Regions from separate parts of the Homo sapiens genome. Here all the other regions are linked to region 3. The links come from fine-mapping of genetic effects on gene expression. A gene starts in region 3. Each other region holds a variant in brackets. All regions are shown on one strand. Distances are from middle to middle. Region 1 overlaps LOC105369468 (a long non-coding RNA gene). Region 2 overlaps CASP5 (caspase 5). Region 3 holds the start of CASP5 (caspase 5). Region 4 overlaps LOC105369468 (a long non-coding RNA gene).

Region 1 (5,920 bases), 200 kb before region 3:
GGGGCTCCATTTTACAGTTTGACACTTATTCAAAGATTCTATTTTATCCTAAACAGCATAACGTTTAAGATACTAATTAAACTTAATTCTCCCAGGTATTTTTCCACTTCTTTTACTTCTCTCTCTCTCTCCCTTTATAGAAGAAATAATTTGTATATAATAAAAAAACCATTGGCTACCTTAGAGATTCATATACAGGGCTATTTTATATGGATAGAAAAATATGGTAAGTCTTTAAATAAATAGCTTAAATTGGTGGTTATAATTTGCTTCAATTGTTTACAGTAATTGTATAAGAAAATAACTTGATTATTTTAAGAACTGTTTCAATAAAATCACACTTCATGTTTATCTACTGCTGCCCTCCATAGGAAAGGAGATCAGTGATGCCCTTTTTCCCTGCTCCCCTCCTTGTTTCATGCACAAGGAAGGCTCTGGAGCAAAGGGCTTTACAGCACTGTCTGGAGTTCTCCCATCTATTGATTGAGGTCAGTGGTACTGATGTGGTCATACTTCCTGAATGTAGACTCTCCCTTACCAGGAGGAACATACATAGAGCTGTACTGAAAAACACATGCTGAGAGTGGTGGAGGTCAAAATTAAGGTGAGGCCTCAGGAATGAATGGCCTTTCAACCCACTTTTGATGGCTCAAACCATGTACAACTTAGGCAAAAGGAGTTCTGCCAATGGTTTAGCCCAGCTCATTAAACACTTTCTTTGTGAACAGAGCTAATAGGTTGACAGGATGGCCCACAGCCCCCAGGAGCTGTAGCTGGCCTCCAGGCCCTTACTCACATTCATTCTCTCTCTCTTCCACCACAGATTGTGCCCCATGGATGGATTTAAATGTATCTTTGGAATGAGTGATTAGAAGAAGACAGAAACTGGGTAATTCCGAGTTTTCTGTCAAATACTATATTCCTAATATCATCCTATCTTCAGCATTTTACTTAGTTCATGTGAGTTTATTCCAGATAGAGTCTACTCTGGTCCACAAATTAAACAGTGTTTGTTTTTTTCTCAAAGGAAACTTTTGAAGGTTATCTATCAGCCTCTGTACTGGAGAGTTAGCCTCTTGAATCAAGTGAGCTAAAGTACACAAAATTGACCCTTCACTGCTTTTAGAACTGTCAGTTTTGCAGAACTCCTCACTTACGAGTCATTCTAAGTGACATTTGCTTCACCTTTCTTTGAAGCTCTTATCACATAGACGCTGGTGCTATCAGCTGAGCTATTATGGGGATAACACATTGAAGCTGCAATAATTTCTAGTTTCCATCTTCAAAAACAAAATACATTTGGTCAAGTATGTGTTAGCCTTTTTCTTTCACATACAGATTCTCAGTTTAAAACTCCTTTGTTTCATCTTAGTAGTCTCCCTTTACTCTCTACACATCCCCAGGCCCAATAGTTCACTACTCCTATAAATGGAGAGAGATTGTACCTTTTTTATGATATATTAAAAACACAAACTGTGTATTTGTGTGGATGTACAGTCAGAGTCTCTCAGTCTGAGAGAAATTCAAGTGTGATAGGCTTTGGAACTTTAGGAGGCTCTGCTGGCTTGAAGTATTTTGGGCTATTATAGACAGAAGCCTATTTTCCAAGGGCTACAATTAGTAGCCAATTACAATATCTGTAACAGTGAAAGATTTCACAATGCAATGCAATGCAAAGTAAAGTTGGACAAGTAACAACATTAAAAAGACATTGATGTGATCCATTGCAAACTTTGGACATGTCATTCTGTTTAGGTTCTCTTTTTCTGCTTAGTTAGACTTTGCATCCATTTCCCTCATTCTTAACTACTGAGCTTTTTTGCTCCATTCCTGCCTCCTGAATCTTCCCAGACTCTCCCTCCTGGCTACTTTTCAATTCAACAAACCCCACATTATACATAACACATTACATTCTGCTGAGTACTGTAAAGAACATTAATAAATTACAAAGCTGTTTTTGAAATATGCATAGTCTTGTAAGGGAGACAAGATTTAACCAATGAACCAATTCAAAAAGTGCCAAATGTAATAGAATCAAGAGGCAACGCTCATAGACTATCAATAAAATGGTCAATAAAGAATCAAGTTCATGTTATTGTTGGCTGACAATTTGCAAAATGCTTCTCAAAGTTACCGAACCCAGCAATATAAAGAGGGGAGAGAGCCTGACTGAGCCTATGACATTTCACAGACTTCATCTCCTGGTTCCTAATCAATATTATATTAAAGAAAAAACAAATCAGAATGATGGAACAGCCTAGCAAAAATTCAGACATGATAGTGTGTCAGAGTGTGCCAAGGAGGTGCATTTGAAGGATCTGGTTCTTGTGGGAAATGGCAGAAGATAAAGTCATATTGCCTTTTTAAAAAGCATTTTCTTTAGACCACTAGTCTAGAAACGTGGTATAGCATACCCCTCCTAGATATTTGCTTGCTCATTAGCATATTAAAATATCTGGAGCCTTAAATATATTCAGATGTTAACTTTCCTTCAACTCATCATTTTACAAATTTCCTTGACCACAAGCCATTAATGACCCTTATTATATAAACAATTTCTTATAGGCTATGCTTTAGGAAATGTGGGATGATGTATATCAAGTAGAATATAAGAAGTCTAGAATGGCAGCATAGAGTTGATTTTTTTAAATAGGGAAAGTTATTGAGTAAGAAACTTAGGTGATCCAGTTTACACATTAAGGACACCCTTCTGTGTGATGAACTAGAGAAAATAAAAATCTTGAAATCAAAGACCACTAAGGAGATAATTGCAAGATGTTTGTTTGTTTTTATAAATTTGAATAGGTTGATGGAATTTAAAATAAAAAAACAAAGGAACAATTCTTTGGGCAAGAGAGATGTGGGCAAAATAAATGGTGTCAACATCAAAATAATGAAAGAAGTAACAAAACAAGATCACTGAAAAGAAAGAAGCTGTTGGGGGGAGGGGGGCATGACAGGAGCTAAGCCAGTGGGAATACTATCTTGATATAGGCTGTAAAAATAAAGTTGGGATAAACGTGTTTAGACACAGATGGAGAACACTCAGCCCCAAGAATGCAGTGACGTCAAATAATGAGCCAGGTTTTTGTTTTTGTTTGTGTCTTTCTGTATGGCTCTTAGCCATCAGTCTTATTATTTAACAGGCATACATGTTATGATCCCCTAAGGAGAGAAGGTGATTACAATAACCTTGTATATTTAAGAAAAATTGAAAATGTGGGGTTTGATGTTTTTTATTTTGTTTTCACTATTTTATGGTATCAGAAATACCTGAGGTCCATGTTTCAAGTACCAATTAATGGACAGGGACCCAATAATCTGTCATTTTTTAAGCACGCTAAAGTGGAGAACAACTGCAGGATCTGCAAAGCTAACATACCTGAAAATTGCTACTCCTTGCAGCAGCTGTGAGAATGTGCCTGGCTGATGTCCCAGAGCAGGAGGTATCAGCCAGCAGCAATAGCCCACAACTGCTG[C/T]ATTCCAAAATTCAATTTGTCCTGCCTTGAATTGAAGACCGTGCCTAGGCTGCTTCTGGCCAGTACCTACTGCTGCAAGAATACTAAGGCAGACTCACTCTGGGGAAAGCAGGGGCCCTTTGAGTGCCAACCATTGGCTTTGTCAAACCTTTCTTGGAAGATCTGGCAGGCTGGGAAGATTTTGAAAACACCTGCCCAGGCTTTCTCTCTTTCTCCTTCAGTCATGGAGATGCAGTTCTTTTTGCACCCTGGTCTGATAGCTCACCCAGTCTTCCTGAATTCCTGACAATTTTGTCATCCAGACAATTTTCCTAATATGGTCCATGCATTTTTAATTCCTTCTTGTTGTCTGCTGCTTGGAAGACATACTAACACCCTTCTTTGCAGTTTGAATAAACTATGATGAACATAGTTTCTCTATTTGCTAATGACACTTGTTGTATATTCTCATAATACAATTAGATTGCATAGGTTCATTGATTCAGAATCTACACAATAATTTTTTAATAATAATATCACTTTATTGAGTGTTTATGATGGATCAGGTAGTGGGTAAGCCCTTTACATCTATTATTATAATTAGTTCTGTGCTGGTGAACAGCCTTTAAAAACAAAAAAAAAAATGTATTTTAGCCAATTTATGTGGTTGTAAACACTCCCACCACAGCCAATTTCAAGCTATTAACAGGATTAACAACAAGCTGGTGAAATGTTTGATAAGTTAGTAGCTGGCTCCTGAAGGTTTGTAGGAGCCTACCTCAACACACAAGACACACTGTAGTCCTTTTTATCAGTTTTGAGGTAGGGTTTAATCCTAGTTTTACTGTTGAAGACCCACAAAAAATATTACAGAAGTTAGGCAATTTGTCCAAATCACAGGCTTGAGATTTGCATCCAAATCTGAAGGACTATTAATTGAACTACTTCCTAGGTGTCTCAAAGACTCTCTGAATCCCAAATCATAGCTAATTTAAGCCAAATAAAAGGAGAGAGAAGGGCTTAGTGAAAAAAAACTCAGATATGTCTCATAGAGCTCAAGATCAGGCAGCTACACTTCAGAGACTTATGAAGCCACCTGGATTCTCCTCATTGCTTCCTGGCTCCTTCTGTTCCACTCAATTTATCTTTATGAGACTACCATCATGACCTGTTTCTGTGTTTCATGTGGCAGGTAGAAAGAGGCTCCTGAGCTTATGAGCTCATGTTTTACGTATAAAATAACTCAGAGAAAATTTCTTTCTTTCTACTCTTAAGTTTAGAAGTCCTAGGAAGGTATTCTTACTGGCCCAGTTTAGGTCAGATTTCCACCACGGTTCTATCAACTGCATTTTCCCTGTGGGTATGGTGAGAATTAAAAGAGGAAAGGTTGTAACCTGAACAGGTGCCCCAAATGGAGTCCACAGCATTGTTTTACATGACAAAAAATATTGTTACATTTGTAATATAGTAATGTGTGTATGTATGTATATGTATATATATATATACATATATTTAAATAGTACGTTATCTCTTTTTCAGTACAAGTACTTAGGCACAATAATCTCTCTGAGTTACTCATTTTTAATTTTTCACTCTTATATTACCCCTAGGTTTTATGAGTCTTATACATTTTTATTTCGTTAGTATATTATTTTTCTTAAGAGATGGGTTCTTACTCTCTTGTCCAGGCTGGAGGGCAGTGGTGTGATCATAGCTCACTGTGACCTTGAATTCCTGGGCTCAAGCGATCCTCCCACCTCAACCTCCCAAGTCCTAGTATTATGGTTGTGTGCCATCATGCCAGGCTAAATTTTGAGTCTTGATAAAGTCAAAATCACAATGATTTCTTTACTCCTGACTAAGCCAAGTATCGAGGGTAGATGGGCTCAGACTCTTTGAGTGGCTACCATAGATTTCAAATCCCCTTAAACATGCATATATGTTACACATGCATTTACTTAAAAGCTTATCTTTATACCAGCCGTCATTCGCATGTTACAAACCAATAACTTGCTACGTATCAAACAAAAACCCATTTTTCTTCCTTATTTACTGCCCAGGAATGGGAAAGATAGATAACTGATCTCCTCAGCCAGCCACATATATTTAATACTAAGTAAAATAAATGGTGTTTATTACACTGAGAATGGGGGAGGTTAATGTATATTTTAAAAGAGCATAATACAACTTTATAACAAAGATATGATATGATTTATCCACAGGAAGGATACAAATAAACAGAAACAAGCTGAACAGGTTCTTAAGCTTTAATATAATGGACAGCACCATTTAATAAAATATGTCAGGATTTTTAAGAATCAGAGAAAGTCGTTGTGGAGTTCAAATGCAAAACACAATCTTGTAAAAAGTCTTCTTTTTCAGAATATTTTTGGCTAAATATAAGAGACTAGCTCTCCCAGATATTTAAATAAATAATAAAGCTACAATAATAAAAGCAGCAG
Region 2 (5,920 bases), 31 kb after region 3:
AATGCACAGAGTTGGAGAGTGAATCATGTGGTTCTTATGCAGGAGAGGTGTTCCAGCACAGAATACAAGTGCAAATGCCCTGGGGCAGAAATATGCTGAACAGGTTTAAAAAGAACTACAATGAGATAGTGTGACCAAAAGAGAATGCAAGTGAGGGAACTGACAGAGACAAATTAGGAGAAACAGTGAGGAGCCTCATCACAATGTGCTTGAACATCACATGGTAAATCTTTAAAAAAATATTATCTGAGTAGATAGGAAACCCTTCCAGTGCTTTGGAAAAGAGAAGTGACATAATTTAACTTAGGTTTTACAAAGATATTCCTGAGTACTTTTCACTAAATAGACACAGAGGTCACAGATGGAAGTCGAGGGAAATGGCAAAAGCATATGGCAGAAGATGGAAGAAGAATCATAATGAAGGATGGGATGAAGGCAGTGAGGGGTAACCATCTTGACCTTCTGTCCTTTCTCTCTTCTGCAGGAAACCACAGGCAGCCCAGCCCTCCTCTGTCAACATCAAAGAGCACATTTACCAGTATAGCTTGCATAGTCAATATTTGGTATTTCAATAAAAGTAAAGACTGTATCTTTTTAGATTGTATGAACTGTATCTTTTTAGATTCTCTAATAGACAATATAATTTCAATGAAAATGGTGGACGAGTGAAAATGAAGTGGAAGAAACTAACTAGATTTTCGAGTTTTATGGCTCATGTAACATCTATACTTGGCTGATGAAGACGACTGGCTGTGACTTACCGCCAACAATAGAATGAAAGAAGATGGTGTTAAAAGTATAAGATACCACCTCATACCCATTAGAATGACTCCCATCAAAACATACAAACAAACACAAAATAACAGGTGTTTGCAGGGATGTAGAATAATCGGAACCCTGTGCTCTGTTGGTGACAATGTCAAATGGCACCACTGTGGAAAACAGTATGGAAGTTCCTCACAAAATTAAAGCTAGAATTATCATAGGATCCAGAAACTCCACCTTTGGGTACATCCCTAAAATAATTGAAAGCAGGGTCTCAAAGATACACTTATACACCCATATTCATGGCAACGTTGTTCATGATATCTAAAATGTGGAAGCAACGAAAGTATCCATGGACTGAAAAATGGATAAGTAAAATATTGTATATAGATATAATAAAATATAATTTAGCATAGAAAGGAGGGAAGTTCTGACATATGCTAAAATATAGAGGAACTTTGAGGACATTATGCCAGGTAAAATAAGCCATTCACACACACAAAAATACAATATGATCACACTTATATGAGGTACCTAGATTATCAGATTCACAGAGACAGAAAGTAGAATGGTGATTGCCAGGTGCTAGGGCAGGAGAAAATGAAGTGTCATTTAATGGTTATAAAGTTTCAGATTTACAAGATAGAAAGAATTCTGGAGGTAGATGGGTGATTGTTGTGCAAAATTATGAATGTATTTTAATACTATTTGGCTGTACACTTAAAATTGTTAAGCTTGTAATTTTGTTATGGCATTTTACTACGATAAAAATTGCAAAAATATAATGATATAATTGAAAGTGAGAAGGTATGAGGGCAACATTAATCAACTTACATAGAGAAAATTTAACTACTGAGCAACATTGATGAAAGAAGAAATTAGGATTAAATATATTATTTATTGTTCCACAATTAATCAATAAAAAGTATGAACATCATGACATCATCAAATATTAGGTAGAATAGACCAGATATGTGGCTATGTAAGTGAGCTGCATCTCATTTTTCATATCAGGTAGTCAATGGCATTGTTTATGTTCTATATTTCGGGAAACACAGAGGTATAATAGTCATTATTGAGAATTCCAAATGTTACTGCCAAACAAAACAAAACAAAAATAATTGAAGGAAATTACCTCTAGTATGTGGGACTAAAGGTGGGGAGAGTTGTACTGGGAAATATGATTTTTATTGTATTCTTTTCTGTACTATGGACTGTCTCATGAATGTATTACTTTGACAAAATATTTAAAATTATATTGAATTGACACTTTTAATAATTTATAGATTTCTAAAAATCAGGTAGTATTGAATTTTAATGTGTTGAATTTTTAAAGGGTTTGTCCTATGTTGTGAAGCAAAGATTAAACAAATGGAGCAAATTGTTGATAATATATGATACTGGTGCTATAAGGAAAAAAGGTATAGGTAAATATGTGTCTGCCAGTTATTTATTTATGGGTATCAAAACACCCAAAACCTCAGTAGTTTAACACAATAAGCATTTGCTATTGTTCACAAGGTTACCAGTTAGCTAGGTAGGTCTTGACTCTGCTGAGATTATCCATGTGTCTGAGATCACCTCTGCATGGGGTAGGCATCTTTACTGAAAGGCTGGGATCTCTCATATGTTTGGAAAGCACATGGCTGGTCTAGAATGACCTTGGCTGGCTGGGGCAGCTGGGCTCTTTTCCACATGATGTGTCTTATTAGCCAGCAATGTGGCTCAGGCTCGTCCTCATTTAGGTTCAGGTGTCCACGAGGAAGAAGAGCACCAGGCTTCATAAAGCCTGAGCTGGGAATTGCACGAGATCCTTCTACTGCATTATGTTGGCCAAAACCAAGTCATAAGACTGTTACAGGGTTGAAGCAAAGGTCAAGGATACTAGGAAGCCAATGATTAAGGAAATCAATAAAATCGGTAATATATTAAGTGTTTTACAAAAGCATAGAAAAAATTCAGAAAGATGCAAGCTAAACATATAATTGGGGTTACCTTGTGTCAAATTAAAGAGTGTGGATAATCCTTTTCCACTTTACAAACTTTTCTATTGTTTAATTTTAGTGGCAAACCTATATTTATTATTAAAAAATGATTTAAGTATCAGTCTTTTGTATATTTAACAAACAAAAAAACCCAAGTGAGTGTGATAGATAAACAATACCCCAATTGACACATGAACAGAATTGGAGAGAGAAGAAAAGAGATCACTTATG[C/T]GACTTTTTGAAATAGTGAAGGGAGTATCACTGGCAGCCTTAAGTCAGCCTCTGTCCCCTCACCTTCCAAATTTATACTTCCAGGGTTGTGCAGGCAACAGTGGAGTGAGAACTCCCAGCAATTTAGAGACTAGTGGTGGTACAATGAAAAATAGGAGTTTAATTTGAGTTATTAACGGTGTTAAAAATTGACAGGAAAACAGAACACAGAGACTTATGTTTGCATGTAAGTGTGCATGCTTTTATTATGATAAATTTGTTATATCAAAAAGAGAATTTTATAAGGGGGAGGAAAAATCACGCACCAAAATTGAGAGTGCAAAACGATAAGACAAATTTGGGAATTAAAAAAATTGTATGGTTGCAATGTAAAAGTTGAAGTATGGTTTGAAAAGATTAGATGTACTGATGAAATATATAGGAGTAATTATTTGTCCTGGGGACAGTGTAAATTATTTTAGAATATTATTAAACAGGGGCGTTATTTATAGTCAGATTTATAATTAAGAAAGATGGCTTGCAGAATGGACAGCAGGTTGAATGGCATACAGGAAGCCAAAATTGCCTGTGTTACAATTCTTTGCCAAGACTCTTAAAACTAAGGTTGGATAGAATTAGAATTCGTAACTAGGAATCAAAGTAAAAATGAATTGGGTTCAAATAATATGAGTTCTTTTTCTGTTAGTCTTTCATTTCCAAACGACTTCTCTTTCCCTCCATTCATATATGTAGCTATCTTCCATTGGAGATAATAATAATCAGTAATGTCACCCAAAGAGAAAAGAAGAATTTGACTTAAAAGGGGAAAATTAGACTTAAAATATATTAAAAAAATACTCTCTTATCTGCCTTGAAGGGCAGGCATTTTCTGAAATAAAGACAAGAATTTAGTGAAACTATTTTCCTTTACCCAGAAGGATCCACCCCGTTCCTTTTTTCCCTAACATCCAGTGAAAGAAGTAAATAGTGTTGACATATACTCACATTAGCAAGTATTTACACATATTTTGAAAGTTTTAATTTTAAAGACATGGTCCCTGTAATCTTTTGCCTTGTAATCTTTTGATCCATAATCCCACCATCATTTTTAGTTGGAGAATATGTATAACAACAGAGAAAAGTATGAGATGCTTTTTAACTTTTAATTTTGGTGTTATCACAAATAATGAATGCACTTATGAGATACATGGGATATATTGATACAGACATTCAATGTATAATAATCACATCATGAAAAAATAGAATATTTATACCCTCAAGCATTTATCCTTTGTGTTATAATCAAATTATCCCCTTTTAGTTATTTTTTAATGCGCAATTAAATTATTTTGACTATAGTCACCTGGGGTGCTGTCAATTACTAGGTCTTATTCATTCATTCTAATAAATTTTGTACCTATTAACCATTCCCACCTCCTCCTGCAACCCTCCACTACCCTTCCAGCTTCTGGTAATCAACTTTCTACTCTCTATACTCATAAGTTCAATTGTTTTTATTTTTAGATTCCACAAATACATGAAAACATGTGATGTTTGTCTTTCTGTGGCTGGCTTGTTTTGCTTAATGCAATGATCTCCCATTCCATCCATGTTGTTGCAAATGACAGAATCTCAGTCTTTCTTATGGCTGAATAGTACTGCATTGTGTATATGTACCATATTTTTTTTATCCATTCATCTGTTGATGGACACTTAGACTGCTTCCAAATCTTAGCTGATGTAAACAGTGCTGCAAAAAAATATGGGAGTGCAGATGTCTCTTCAATATACTGATTTTCTTTCTTCTGGCTACATACCCCGAAGTGGAATTGCTGGATTATATGGTAGCTTTATCTTTAGTTTTTTTTGAGAAGGCTCCAAACTCTTCTTCATAGTGGTTGTACTAATTTACATTCCCAACAGTGTATGAATGTTTCCTTTTCTCTGCATCCTCACCAGCACTGTTTATTGCCTATCATTTGGATAAAAGTCATTTTAACTGGGGTGAGATGATGTATCATTGGAGTTTTGATTTGCATTTCTCTGATCATCAATGGTGCTGAATATCTTTTCATAAGCCTGTTTGTTGTTTTTATGTTTTCTTTTGAGAAATATCTATCCAAATCTTCTACCCATTTTTATTTTTTTCTTTTACCCATTTTTAAATCAGATCATTAGATTTTTTTCTTATAGAGTTGTTTCAGCTCCTTATAAATTTTGGTTATTAATCCCTTTTCATTTGGAGAGTTTGCAAATATTTTCTCCCATGCTGTTGGTTGTCTTTCACCTTGATTATTTTCTTTATTCCACAGATGCTTTTTAACATGATATGATTCTATTTGTCCATTTTTGCTTTTGTTTCTTGTGCTTGTGGGGTATTACTCAAAAAATTTTTGCCCACACCAATGTTCTAATAGTTTCCCTAATGTTTTATTTTAGTAGTTTCATAATTTGAGGTCTTAGATTTAAATCTTTCATCAGTTTTGATTTTGTTTTTGTATGTGGCAAGAGATAAGGTTATAGTTTCATTCTTCTGCAAATGGATATCCTGTTTTCCCAGCACCATTTATTGAAAAGGCTATCTTTTCCCCAGGGTATATTCTTGACACCTTTGTCAAAAACGAGCTCACTGTAGGTGTGTAAATTTGTTTCTGTGTTCTCTATTTTGTTCCATTGGTCTATGCATCTGTTTTTATGCCAGTACCATGCTGTTTTAATTATTATAGTTCTGTAGTATAATTTGGAATTATGTAATGTGATTCCTCTAGTTTTGTTCCTTTTGCTCAGGATAGCTTTGGCTATTCTGGGTCTTTTGCAGTTCAATATAAATTTTAGACTCATTTCACCTATTTCTGTAAAGAATGTTGTTGGGCATTCTTTTTATTGGACAGAGATGGCATTTGGACAGAGATGGCATTCAGTCTGTAGGTTGCTTTGGGTAGTTTGTACATTTTAACAAT
Region 3 (5,504 bases):
TTTTGGATGTTTCTCTCCTTCACCTCAGCAGGGTATATTTAAACATAGCATGTGGTCTTTCCTTTTAAAATTGTGTATGTTCCCATTGGTGGTATAACTTTATAACTTGCATGTCTTTAACAAAATTCTTTCCTATGTTTTTTTTTTTAATTATTTCTTTTTCTCATAGGAAGTGAAGAGATCCTTCTGTAAAGGTTTTTGGAATTATGTCTGCTGAATAATAAACTTTTTTGAAATAATAAATCTGGTAGAAAAATGAAAACTTGTCCTCATTTTTCTCCCACACTGAAGAAACAGGGACTGGAACTTAGAGTGACTAAGGAATTTAGAGTGTTTGACTTAATCTGTCAGACCCAAACTGGCTATTGGCACCTTTCTTTCCCAGAACTTAAAGTAAAATAAAATATAAAAATTTAAAAAAGAAAATCAGACTTACAAACATAGCAATGTTATTAATTACTTTCTTGAACAAAAATTTATTTTGTGCCATTTTTAAAAAAAGAAAAATCGTTTGCTGGGCTTTCTGCTTTGGGGATGTGATATAAGTTACAGCAGGTATCTGACTTCAAATAATTTAGAGCTCAGCAGGAGAGACGGGGGAAGACAGCTAGTTATGACAGCGACAGTGTAGTGTGATAAAGAACTTTTCCCAAATCCCACAGTTTGCTACTGACAAATCCATGAACTTGCATGTTTCTACCCTTTGCAAAAGTATTTAAGACAAAGTAAGTTTTGAATCAACCCTCAGTAGTTCACAGACTTCTTGAAAAGATAAGACAGCCATCCAAAATGAAGCGCTTGGCAGATGGTGCCTGACACCCTGAAGAAACTCTAGGATGCATGGTGTGCACAGTGAAGTCCTGGCATGGTGCAGAGAAAACGAGTTTGGGGTGAAATCATGCACTCAGGGATGTTAAGATTTAGGGAGGATTCGAAGAACTACCCCTTACTTGCAAATATGTTTTTTTCTAATATTTAACAGATTAAATGAGAGTTAATTTCTGACTTCTTAAACACCTTCATAGTTGAACACATTACAGTCTCTCTCTCTCTCTCTTTTTTTTTTTTTTTACCTTTTATTAACTGTTTCTCTGGGCATATCTCTTCTGTGTTATCATGCATACTCTACTACAACCTGAGACTACATCTGTGATCAGTCTTTGCTCAGAGAATATCAAAAAGGAGAAGTGAATTGCCACCCTAAGTAAAAATTAACTGTTAAAGCAGTTTTAGTCAGTTGAAGAACAGCATTCCAGGAAGTAGATAAGAGGATTCCTTCAGAACTGTCTCCAATCAAAGCGTAAGATGACAGGGAGATGGGGAGGAGAAGACTCCATCATGATTCCTCAGCACAGTTTAAACAAGAAATACATTTATTGAATAAACAATCCTTTCCTTGTTTCTTTTTGCTGTTGTTGTTGACTTTGTTGAGTATCAGTTGGTTATAGGTGTGTGGCTTTATTTTGGGGTTCTCTATTCTGTTCCATTGGGCTTTGTGTCTGTTTTTTTTGTACGAATACCTTGCTGTTGTGGTTACTGTAGACTTCTAGCATAGCTTGAAGTCCAGTAATGTGATGCATCCATCTTTTTGAAAAGCAGTTTGGAGATTTACCAAATAACTAAAAAAAGAACTATCATTTGTCCAAGCATCCCATTACTGACTGAATCCTCAAAGGAAAATGTACTGTTCTATCAAAAAGACATGTGCTTTCAAATGTTTGTCGCAGCACTATTCACTGTAGCCAAAATAATAGAATCAACCCAGGTGTCCATCAATGGTGGATTGGATTTAAAAAAATGTGGTACACTGCTACTATGGAATGTTACACAGCCATAAAAATGAAACCCTGCCCTTTGCAGCAACATGGATGCAACTGGAGGCCATTATTCTAAGCAAATTAATGCAGAAACAGAAAACCAAATATCACATAATCTCACTTGTAAGTTCTAGCTAAATATTGTGTACACATGGACATAAAGACGGGAATAACAGACACAGGGAAATACCAGAGGGAGGAATGAAGGAAGAAGGCAAGAGCCGAAAAACTATGTACTGGGTGCTATTCTCACTACCTAGGTAATAGGTTAAATTGTACTACAAACCTCTGCATCACCTAATATACTCTTGTAACAAACCTGCATATGTACCCCTGAAACTCAAATAAAAATTGAAATGAAAAATAAAGAAACCCAAGATATACAAAATATTTGGTTAATTCTTATGGGAAGATGCAAGGAAACTAGTTAGATTTTACTCATTCAGGACATGTGTTTTTAGACGAGCAGAGGTAGAAAAACTGACAGATCAGAAGAGAGGGATGAATAAAAGAAGATGTGGGGCTATGGAGAGAGAAAAGGAAAAAGAAAACCAGGCTGAGGTTTCAACCCACAAAACAATGTTTTGTCATTTGCATTTTTTTTCCCCAGGGAAGAATCTAGAGTTCAAGAATAGAAAGCCAATTTGCTTACTACAGGGCACTTCCCAATGATGAAACTATAGGTTCCCAGAAGCAACTTCCCATAATCTGTAATCACTTGTCCCCACTCCCTGCAATAAGGAAGTACCTAGTGTATTTTATCTCTGAGTCTGAGGCACTTTCCAGTGCTGTACAAAGAGACAGAGGCTGTTAGCTATGGCTGGTGAGTCTGGGCCCTTTTCTGACTAGCAGCTGGGTACTCAGGTCTTAGAAAAATCTTGATTTATTGCTATGTGACAGGCAGAAATACCAAAAGGGAAATCAACCAATAGTGTGCATGCTGAATCTTTCTCTTATTGGTGGTATGTAGTTTGAATCCTGAGACTGTGTAGAGACACTGAAGGAGAGTATGTTCTCTAGATGTTTTCAAGCCAGAAAAAGGTTAATTCCTTTCTTTCAGCTTCTGGTAATCAAAGAGAGAGTAAGGAAAGACAGAGTAAGTTATTTGTGTGAGAAAACTCCGGAAATTTCTAAATGCACTCTGAAATCTTCTCTGCTTCCTCTTGATTCCAAATTAATCCTCCAGACTATGAACCTTCTCCCCACAATCAGATCTGAGAGCCTCTGTGTTCTCAACGTGTTGTCATCTCTTATCTTGAATTATCTTATTGGTCTGTTTAAAGTGATTGCATTTTTCCACCTTTCTATGTAGTCCTGGTACTAACTCTTATAATGTAATATATCTTAGGTTGCTATCATAGACTTTTAACTGTCTTCCCACTCCCAAAAACTTAACCCTTCAGTCCATACTGCACACTACTTTCAGGCCAACTGTCTTATACACAGAAGCTAAAAAAGCCTATGAGTTGGAGTCCTGGGCTACTTAAGCAGCTCGTATTCCAGCAGGTCATATTGCGTCTTTGGTTTCATTCTCCTCACTGGAAAAAGGAAGAAACTGGAATAGATCAGTGCTTTCTAAACCTTATAACATATATGAATAATCTGCAGTCTTTTTTTTTCTTTAATTTATTTATTTATTATTATTATACTTTAAGTTTTAGGGTACATGTGCACAATGTGCAGGTTAGTTACATATGTATACATGTGACATGCTGGTGGGCTGCACCCACTAACTCGTCATCTAGCATTAGGTATACCTCCCAATGCTATCCCTCCCCCCTCCCCCCACCCCACAACAGGCTCCAGAGTGTGATGTTCCCCTTCCTGTGTCCATGTGTTCTCATTGTTCAGTTCCCACCTATGAGTGAGAATATGCGGTGTTTGGTTTTTTGTTCTTGTGATAGTTTACTGAGAATGATGATTTCCAATTTCATCCATGTCCCTACAAAGGACATGAACTCATCATTTTTTATGGCTGCATAATATTCCATGGTGTATATGTGCCACATTTTCTTAATCCAGTCTATCATTGTTGGACATTTGGGTTGGTTCCAAGTCTTTGCTATTGTGAATAATGCCACAATAAACATACGTGTGCATGTGTCTTTATAGCAGCATGATTTATAGTCCTTTGGGTATATACCCAGTAAAGGGATGGCTGGGTCAAATGGTATTTCTAGTTCTAGATCCCTGTGGAATCGCCACACTGACTTCCACAATGGTTGAACTAGTTTACAGTCCCACCAACAGTGTAAAAGTGTTCCTATTTTTCCACATCCTCTCCAGCACCTGTTGTTTCCTGACTTTTTAATGATTGCCATTCTAACTCGTGTGAGATGGTATCTCATTGTGGTTTTGATTTGCATTTCTCTGATGGCCAGTGATGGTGAGCACTTTTTCATGTGTTTTTTGGCTGCATAAATGTCTTCTTTTGAGAAGTGTCTGTTCATGTCCTTCGCCCACTTTTTGATGGGGTTGTTTGTTTTTTTCTTGTAAATTTGTTTGAGTTCATTGTAGATTCTGGATATTAGCCCTTTGTCAGACGAGTAGGTTGCGAAAATTTTCTCCCATTTTGTAGGTTGCCTGTTCACTCTGACGGTAGTTTCTTTTGCTGTGTAGAAGCTCTTTAGTTTAATTAGATCCCATTTGTCAATTTTGGCTTCTGTTGCCATTGCTTTTGGTGTTTTAGACATGAAGTCCTTGCCCATGCCTATGTCCTGAATGGTAATGTCTAGGTTTTCTTCTAGGGTTTTTATGGTTTTAGGTCTAACTTTTAAGTCTTTAATCCATCTTGAATTAATTTTTGTATAAGGTGTAAGGAAGGGATCCAGTTTCAGCTTTCTACATATGGCTAGCCAGTTTTCCCAGCACCATTTATTAAATAGGGAATCCTTTCCGCATTGCTTGTTTGTCTCAGGTTTGTCAAAGATCAGATAGTTGTAGATATGCGGCATTATTTCTGAGGGCTCTGTTCTGTTCCATTGATCTATATCTCTGTGTTGGTACCAGTACCATGCTGTTTTGGTTACTGTAGCTTTGTAGTATAGTTTGAAGTCAGGTAGTGTGATGCCTCCAGCTTTGTTCTTTTGGCTCAGGATTGACGTGGCAATGCGGGCTCTTTTTTGGTTCCATATGAACTGTAAAGTAGTTTTTTCCAATTCTGTGAAGAAAGTCATTGGTAGCTTGATGGCGATGGCATTGAATCTGTAAATTATCTTGGGCAGTATGGCCATTTTTCACGATATTGATTCTTCCTACCCATGAGCATGGAATGTTCTTCCATTTGTTTGTACCCTCTTTTATTTCCTTGAGCAGTGGTTTGTAGTTCTCCTTGAAGAGGTCCTTCACATCCCTTGTAAGTTGGATTCCTAGGTATTTTATTCTCTTTGAAGCAATTGTGAATGGGAGTTCACTCATGATTTGGCTCTCTGTTTGTCTGTTGTTGGTGTATAAGAATGCTTGTGATTTTTGTACATTGATTTTGTATCCTGAGACTTTGCTGAAGTTGCTTATCAGCTTAAGGAGATTTTGGGCTGAGACAATGGGGTTTTCTAGATATACAATCATGTCGTCTGCAAACAGGGACAATTTGACTTCCACTTTTCCTAATTGAATACCCTTTATTTTCTTCTCCTGCCTGATCGCCCTGGCCAGAACTTCCAACACTATGTTGAATAGGAGTGGTGA
Region 4 (5,920 bases), 160 kb before region 3:
GAAGCCCTCTCAACCTCTAGTCTCTTTCATTGTGTGGTATTTTATTTAATTCTGGTGTGGTGGTGGTGGTGGTAGTGTGTGTGTGTGTGTGTGTGTGTGTTAGGGAAAGGAACCTTCAAAAATAGGAACTGCTTCAGATGGATATGGGCAGAAAAAAATCATTAGTATATAGCAGTTTCCATATTCTCTTGTTTTTTTTTTACTTCGTAACTGTCACTAAAGAAGGAATATACATACTGTTAGTTTCCTACTGCTCTCTTAACAAATAGCAATAAACTTGATAGCTTAAAACAACAGAAATTTATTATATTACAGTTCTCAAGGCCAGAAGTCCAAAATCAAGGTGTCAGCAAAGTCATGCTCCCTTTGAAGGCTGTAGGGTAGAATCCTTCCTTACCTCTTCCACATTCTGATGGCTTCAGCCTTTTCAACTTGCGCCTGTGTAACTTCAATCATTGTACCCTTCTTCACATGGGATTCTTCTCTTCTGCTTCATATCTTCTCCTCCTCTGAATTATTCCATCTCAAAATCTTTAGCTTAATTATATCTGCAAAGAAGATTTTTTCTAAACAAGGTCACATTTACATTTTTCAGGGATTAGAATATGAACATACCTTTTGAGGAGGGCCATCATTCAATCCGCTGCTAATCAGGCCAAAAGCACAAGCATATAGCTAGAGGAAAATCTTATCTACTTCTCTGCATCTGGCAACCAAGTTCCTGATTCGTTTCCTTACATGGATAATTCCAATTAGATAAGAAAATCTCAATTAAAAAATATAGTCGACTGCTGCTTACCTTCTTTTTTTCTGAGGCACACAGTGTCTTGATCCTTCTACTTTCTAAATACATCTCTTTGTATCTTTCATGGCTCTCTTTTTGCTTCATTCTTTCCATTTATTTTTCTCATTTTTTCTATCTTTGGTGTATAGACCTTGACTTTACTGTAGCTAGAAGGAAAAGGAAAAATGTTTCGGTTGCATGTATATTATCCACTGCTTCAAATCCAAATCACACTGTAACCAGTTTTTTTAAGCAGGGATAGGGGTTGAGAATGTGCTGTTATGTATGTGCACAGTGAGGCCAAGTAAAAAAATTGAGACTACTAGAGAAATAAATTGACAGACAATAAAATAAGTAAAATGATTTACAACTTATTTGAAAAATATGTGATGAGCTAAAAGGACAGATTTGTGTCAGAGAGAAATTATGTGAATCCTAGAACTGGAGAATAGGGAGAAATGATTGCAAGGAGAATAAAATCAGGATAAATCACTTGACAATACCCTTCCAAAATTATCTGAAGAATTGAGAACTTCACTAATTAATAAGTTTCTACCTTAACTGCTAAATTTATATGTAAATATTTTTCCATTTTCACAAGCATTTATTGAGTGCCTACTGTGCACTAGATACTTTTTAGTGTATTGATTCTGGTATAAATTCAGAAATGCTATTGTGTTGGATCCTAGGTATGCGTGTGGTAACCAAAGTCTGCAAACTCTGTTCCCTGGTTTACACAATAGAGAAAATATAGCATATGATAGAAAAACAAATGTAAACAAGTAAAACAAATAGGCAAACAAGGAATTTTCAACTGAGTTTTGTAAAAGTCAAATTATACTCAATGGACACTATATTTGAATGGTTTAAGATGTTTGGAAATTAGTTAAATGTCAGAACAGTTTTTGTGCACAGGGTGATTTTAATAAAGATTAGAAAACTGTAATAATGCTGCTGAGGATCAATAAATAGACCTTAATATTAGAAAATAATATGGTTGTATTCTCATACTGAAGTATGGAAGAAGAATGTTATGATTAGTATAGACATTTTTTCTTGCCATGGATGTTATGTAAAAACAATTTTTAGAATTTATTGAAGCTATAACAATAGAAAGTATTTCTAAAAAGTTCTTATTCACATTCTAAATTTTCATTAGAGTCATAGGAAGCTTCAGCATAAACCTTAAGATTTTACATTTCAGCTCAAGTAATATGCACATAAAATTTGACATTTTCCAAAGAAGAGGAAAATTTCAGATCAAACGTTGATACATACTTTTTTTCATCATTGCTTTTCTCCATTCCTTAAATTCTTATTCTGGTTTAACGTCATGACAATCTCTCATTTCACTGACATTTCATAAAAAGAACACAAGGATTTTCTAATAAAGGCTTTAGAGATCTCTAATTCTTCTTTGGAAATTGGGCACTTACTTTCTGTGCATTTAAATCACTTCTAAGATAATTATCTCTCCTAGTCTCTACAAACATAAATATAACTGTTCTGCTTTCTAAGTCATGGTTTTCTTTAAGTATACTTGCTATATCTTCACTTTCTGTGCATGAATATCAGATTAGGTCTCATCAAAAGCGATCTTTGTTTGAAAAGTAATTTCAAAGCCAACTAGCATCATAACAACACATTTTAGCTTGCACCTTTCCGTCCTGCTCAGAAAACACAAGGTGATGTTTGTCACTTATATTTAGAGTCAAGTGATCTCCAAGAAGCATACTGGATAAGTTCACATAATGCCAGGTTCCTGACAAGAGTTTCTTGTTGGTTGGCTTCAGTAGCTCT[T/C]GCTCAAGAATTGCAGAAGTACATGTTTCTGTAACACATACTTCCTCAATAACCCTATTAGGTAATCTTAATATCATTTCCCTGTACTCTGGGAGGCTGTGTTTTTGCTAAAAAATCCCTTTGCTTTTTAACTTGAAAAAATAATCAGAATTTATTGACTCTGTGAATATCTTTGAATAGACCACCAAATGATAATAAATCAATAAACAGAAGCACAATCTGTATTTTTGGAAACATGTTTATATCTTAAAATAGGCTAAAAATATTGTAATATTTTAAAAATTTATATATGGCTCATCAGAAGCTCATTATTGCTCATTGTCTGCTAGAGAATATACTTCTTTAGTTCTTTGTAGGATTCAGAGCTATTTCTGGATCTCAGTTATAAGGCACCGGCTGAATCATTCACATTGTCTCTGAAACTTGGGTTGGCTCAAGGCCAAGTTGTTCAGAAGACTTTCTGCTAATCGTATTTTAGTCTTGTCTTTGTAAAAGGCTATGAATTATCTTAATAGAATATCTGTTAAGCAATAGTTTAGTGAGACCTTAGCTTTCACTTTAATAACCCATTGAAAGGAAATATAAGTGTAAAAAAGCAGTCTTTATGAGTGGTTTAGATCATAGACTCTGGACTCAGACAATCCTGATTTCTTTTTTTTTTTTTTTTTTTTTTTTTTGAGACGGAGTCTCGCTCTGTCGCCCAGGCTGGAGTGCAGTGGCGGGATCTCGGCTCACTGCAAGCTCCGCCTCCCGGGTTCACGCCATTCTCCTGCTTCAGCCTCCGGAGTAGCTGGGACTACAGGCGCCCGCCACTACGCCCGGCTCATTTTTTGTATTTTTAGTAGAGACGGGGTTTCACCGTTTTAGCCGGGATGGTCTCGATCTCCTGACCTCGTGATCCGCCCGCCTCGGCCTCCCAAAGTGCTGGGATTACAGGCGTGAGCCACCGCGCCCGGCCGACAATCCTGATTTCTAATTCTCACTCTAGCAATTGGTGGTTATTCAACTTTAATAAACCTGCACAACCTTGCTCACAGATTAATTTTTCCATTTCTACAATGAAGACATGATATCTCATACTCTCACAGTATTATTTTGGCCATGAAACAAGCTCATACTAAAATGCTTAACACATCGTACACATAAATATTAACTAATATTAAAATCTAGTTTATTCAAGAAGAATATTTTGAGAGGAGTTTGCTTTAGTCCTTGACATGACTTTCTGTACACTTCCAGGCAATCAGTAATAATAGATAGATAAATGAAGAAACTAAAGCACAATTATTCAAAAGAGATAAACACAGAACTCCTCTTTGATTAGAAGGATCTTGCCCGCACCTAGAGTAGAAACTTACTTCTTCAGAATAGTTTGTCACAACTATTATCTTGTATTTTTATCATAGATCTTATTTATTTGACTTTTAAAACAAGCATACTTTTAAAATATGTTAGAAGGGGAACAAAACTAGCAGAGCTGGGTGATATGAAAGTGACCTTAAGAGCTAATTGTTTAAAATTTTGCAAGAAAATACATATTATTTTGCAAATATTCCCTGGAATGTGCACTTGACCTATCTTTTCTTCAAACGAAGTTATTCTGGACAGACTGCTAGCATATGATAAATGTGTACTATGAGTAAGTTACTATTGTAGGACTAGCTGAACAAAGACAGAGGACTTTTTTAAAAAAGCAATCAGCTGTTTCTGGGATGTTTCACGGTCCCAAACTGGAAACATCAATTAATATGTTAAAGAGCTAATCTTTATTTCTACTTCTACATAAGTACAGGAGCAATATATCTCTGGAAGTATATAAACCATTTCTCAATAATACATAATTTTATTTTGTTCATATATTTGTGTCCTTCACACTTTGTGAAATTTACCAGCGAATGCATTATCATTCATTTTAATAAGTTTATTCCGCAATTTCAGGGGAACACAGGGCAGCTCTAGTTCTCAATACATAAAAGGAAAGCAAGTGGCCCGCTGGCTGAAAGGTAGCTATGTAAATATTAGCAAGCAGAGTTTAAATGCTTGGCATTTATCCAATTGACCAGAGGATTCTATATCTACACCATTAGAATAATCTTTAGAAGTCATAAGAGGAATCCCCCAAAGTGTCATATCCCTTCCTTTAAAAATACCATGCATGTCACTGAGTGTACCATATGGTATTTATATCACTTTTTAGTTTTATTAGTTTAATCTGAACAGAAAAATATTCTTATGTATATGGGTGCAGCAAATGGTTGAAATGATAGAACTGTGTCTAAGGCAAAGTTATTTTAAAAAAAACATACTTGTAAGCCTGTGCAACCAGATAGAACATTTTATGGCTAAAAGCTTAAAAATATATTTCAGATAGAGAGATCAGTAGAGAGACAAAATATTGATCAGATATCCAGATTATACTAGAAAATTTTATTTATATGCAGAGCTAATTTCCATTCCGTTACAATTAATATTGTTTTAGACATGTATGAAAATAATATATTAATAAATATTTATTAACGTATGCTGGGGAATGAGATAAAAAAATGAATCTGTTCTATAACAATATGCATCTCCAGTTCTAGAAAAGGTTAAGACAAAATTTAAGGCATTGAAAAGAATTAGCTCTTTATCTTCTTTTAATTTTTAGACTGGGTCCAGAATCAAAAATATATTTATGGAACTATCAGGTTGATTTCAAAATTTAATTGGTCTCTAAGATGTTGATCCAATATCTTTTTCACTTTTCACCTAAAAATAATTATTTATTATGTTATATATGTTTAATAGTATAAATCTTTTATTCATATCAGCACCATGGTTAGGCCAGAGAGTTCCCTAGAGGCAGAACGGCTTCAGTTCCCAGACCTCGGCATATAGACTTTTCTTTTGTTCTTAATTTTAGTCCAGGGTAATGGTTGACAACCTTGAAATTCAGAAGGATCACTAGAGAGATACATGCTACACTATGCTATTTAACTTTATAGACAATTTACAGGATATTCAAGGATAATTGTGATTAGTTGTCTGCTTTTTGCCTTTTCAAGAAAAACTTAGGTTCTAATCTCTATAGAACTGTGATTCCTCTCTAATTGTACCATGACATAACATGTTTATTGTACCTATTCACAGTAAATCCTAATTGCAACATTTCAATCCACTTTATTCACATAACTGAAAGCAAGGAACAAGTTTTTTTTTTTTTTTTTTTTTTGAGACAGAGTCTCGCTCTTTCGCCCAGGCTGGACTGCAGTGGCTCTGTCTTGGCTCACTGCAAGCTCCGCCTCCCGGGTTCACGCCATTCTCCTGCCTCAGCCTCCCAGGTAGCTGGGACTACAG

What was found. PIP is the estimated chance that this variant, and not a neighbour inherited with it, causes the effect.
Region 1: its variant is fine-mapped to the expression of CASP5 in whole blood (TOPMed, PIP above 0.99).
Region 2: its variant is fine-mapped to the expression of CASP5 in whole blood (TOPMed, PIP above 0.99).
Region 4: its variant is fine-mapped to the expression of CASP5 in whole blood (TOPMed, PIP 0.94).

The regions. Positions count from the first base shown.
Region 1 is chr11:105,222,190-105,228,109 of GRCh38, reverse strand. The region is part of intron 4 of LOC105369468 (a long non-coding RNA gene); the gene reads left to right. Among named protein-coding and RNA genes, the nearest start is that of CARD18, 85 kb to the right of the region's middle. The variant C/T (reference allele first, on the strand shown) is at 3,480.
Region 2 is chr11:104,988,912-104,994,831 of GRCh38, reverse strand. It overlaps CASP5 (caspase 5), which reads left to right. Exons shown (of 10, transcript NM_004347.5): 10 at 485-589. Among named protein-coding and RNA genes, the nearest start is that of CASP4, 23 kb to the right of the region's middle. The variant C/T (reference allele first, on the strand shown) is at 2,982.
Region 3 is chr11:105,020,266-105,025,769 of GRCh38, reverse strand. It overlaps CASP5 (caspase 5), which reads left to right and starts at 2,602. Exons shown (of 10, transcript NM_004347.5): 1 at 2,602-2,640. The coding sequence starts at 2,634. The region is part of intron 1 of LOC124902742 (a long non-coding RNA gene); the gene reads right to left. It overlaps CASP1 (caspase 1), which reads left to right. Exons shown (of 9, transcript NM_001257118.3): 9 at 1-262.
Region 4 is chr11:105,178,401-105,184,320 of GRCh38, reverse strand. The region is part of intron 4 of LOC105369468 (a long non-coding RNA gene); the gene reads left to right. LOC105369469 (a long non-coding RNA gene) reads right to left here. Exons shown (of 5, transcript XR_007062872.1): 3 at 800-951; 4 at 398-548. Among named protein-coding and RNA genes, the nearest start is that of CARD18, 42 kb to the right of the region's middle. The variant T/C (reference allele first, on the strand shown) is at 2,585.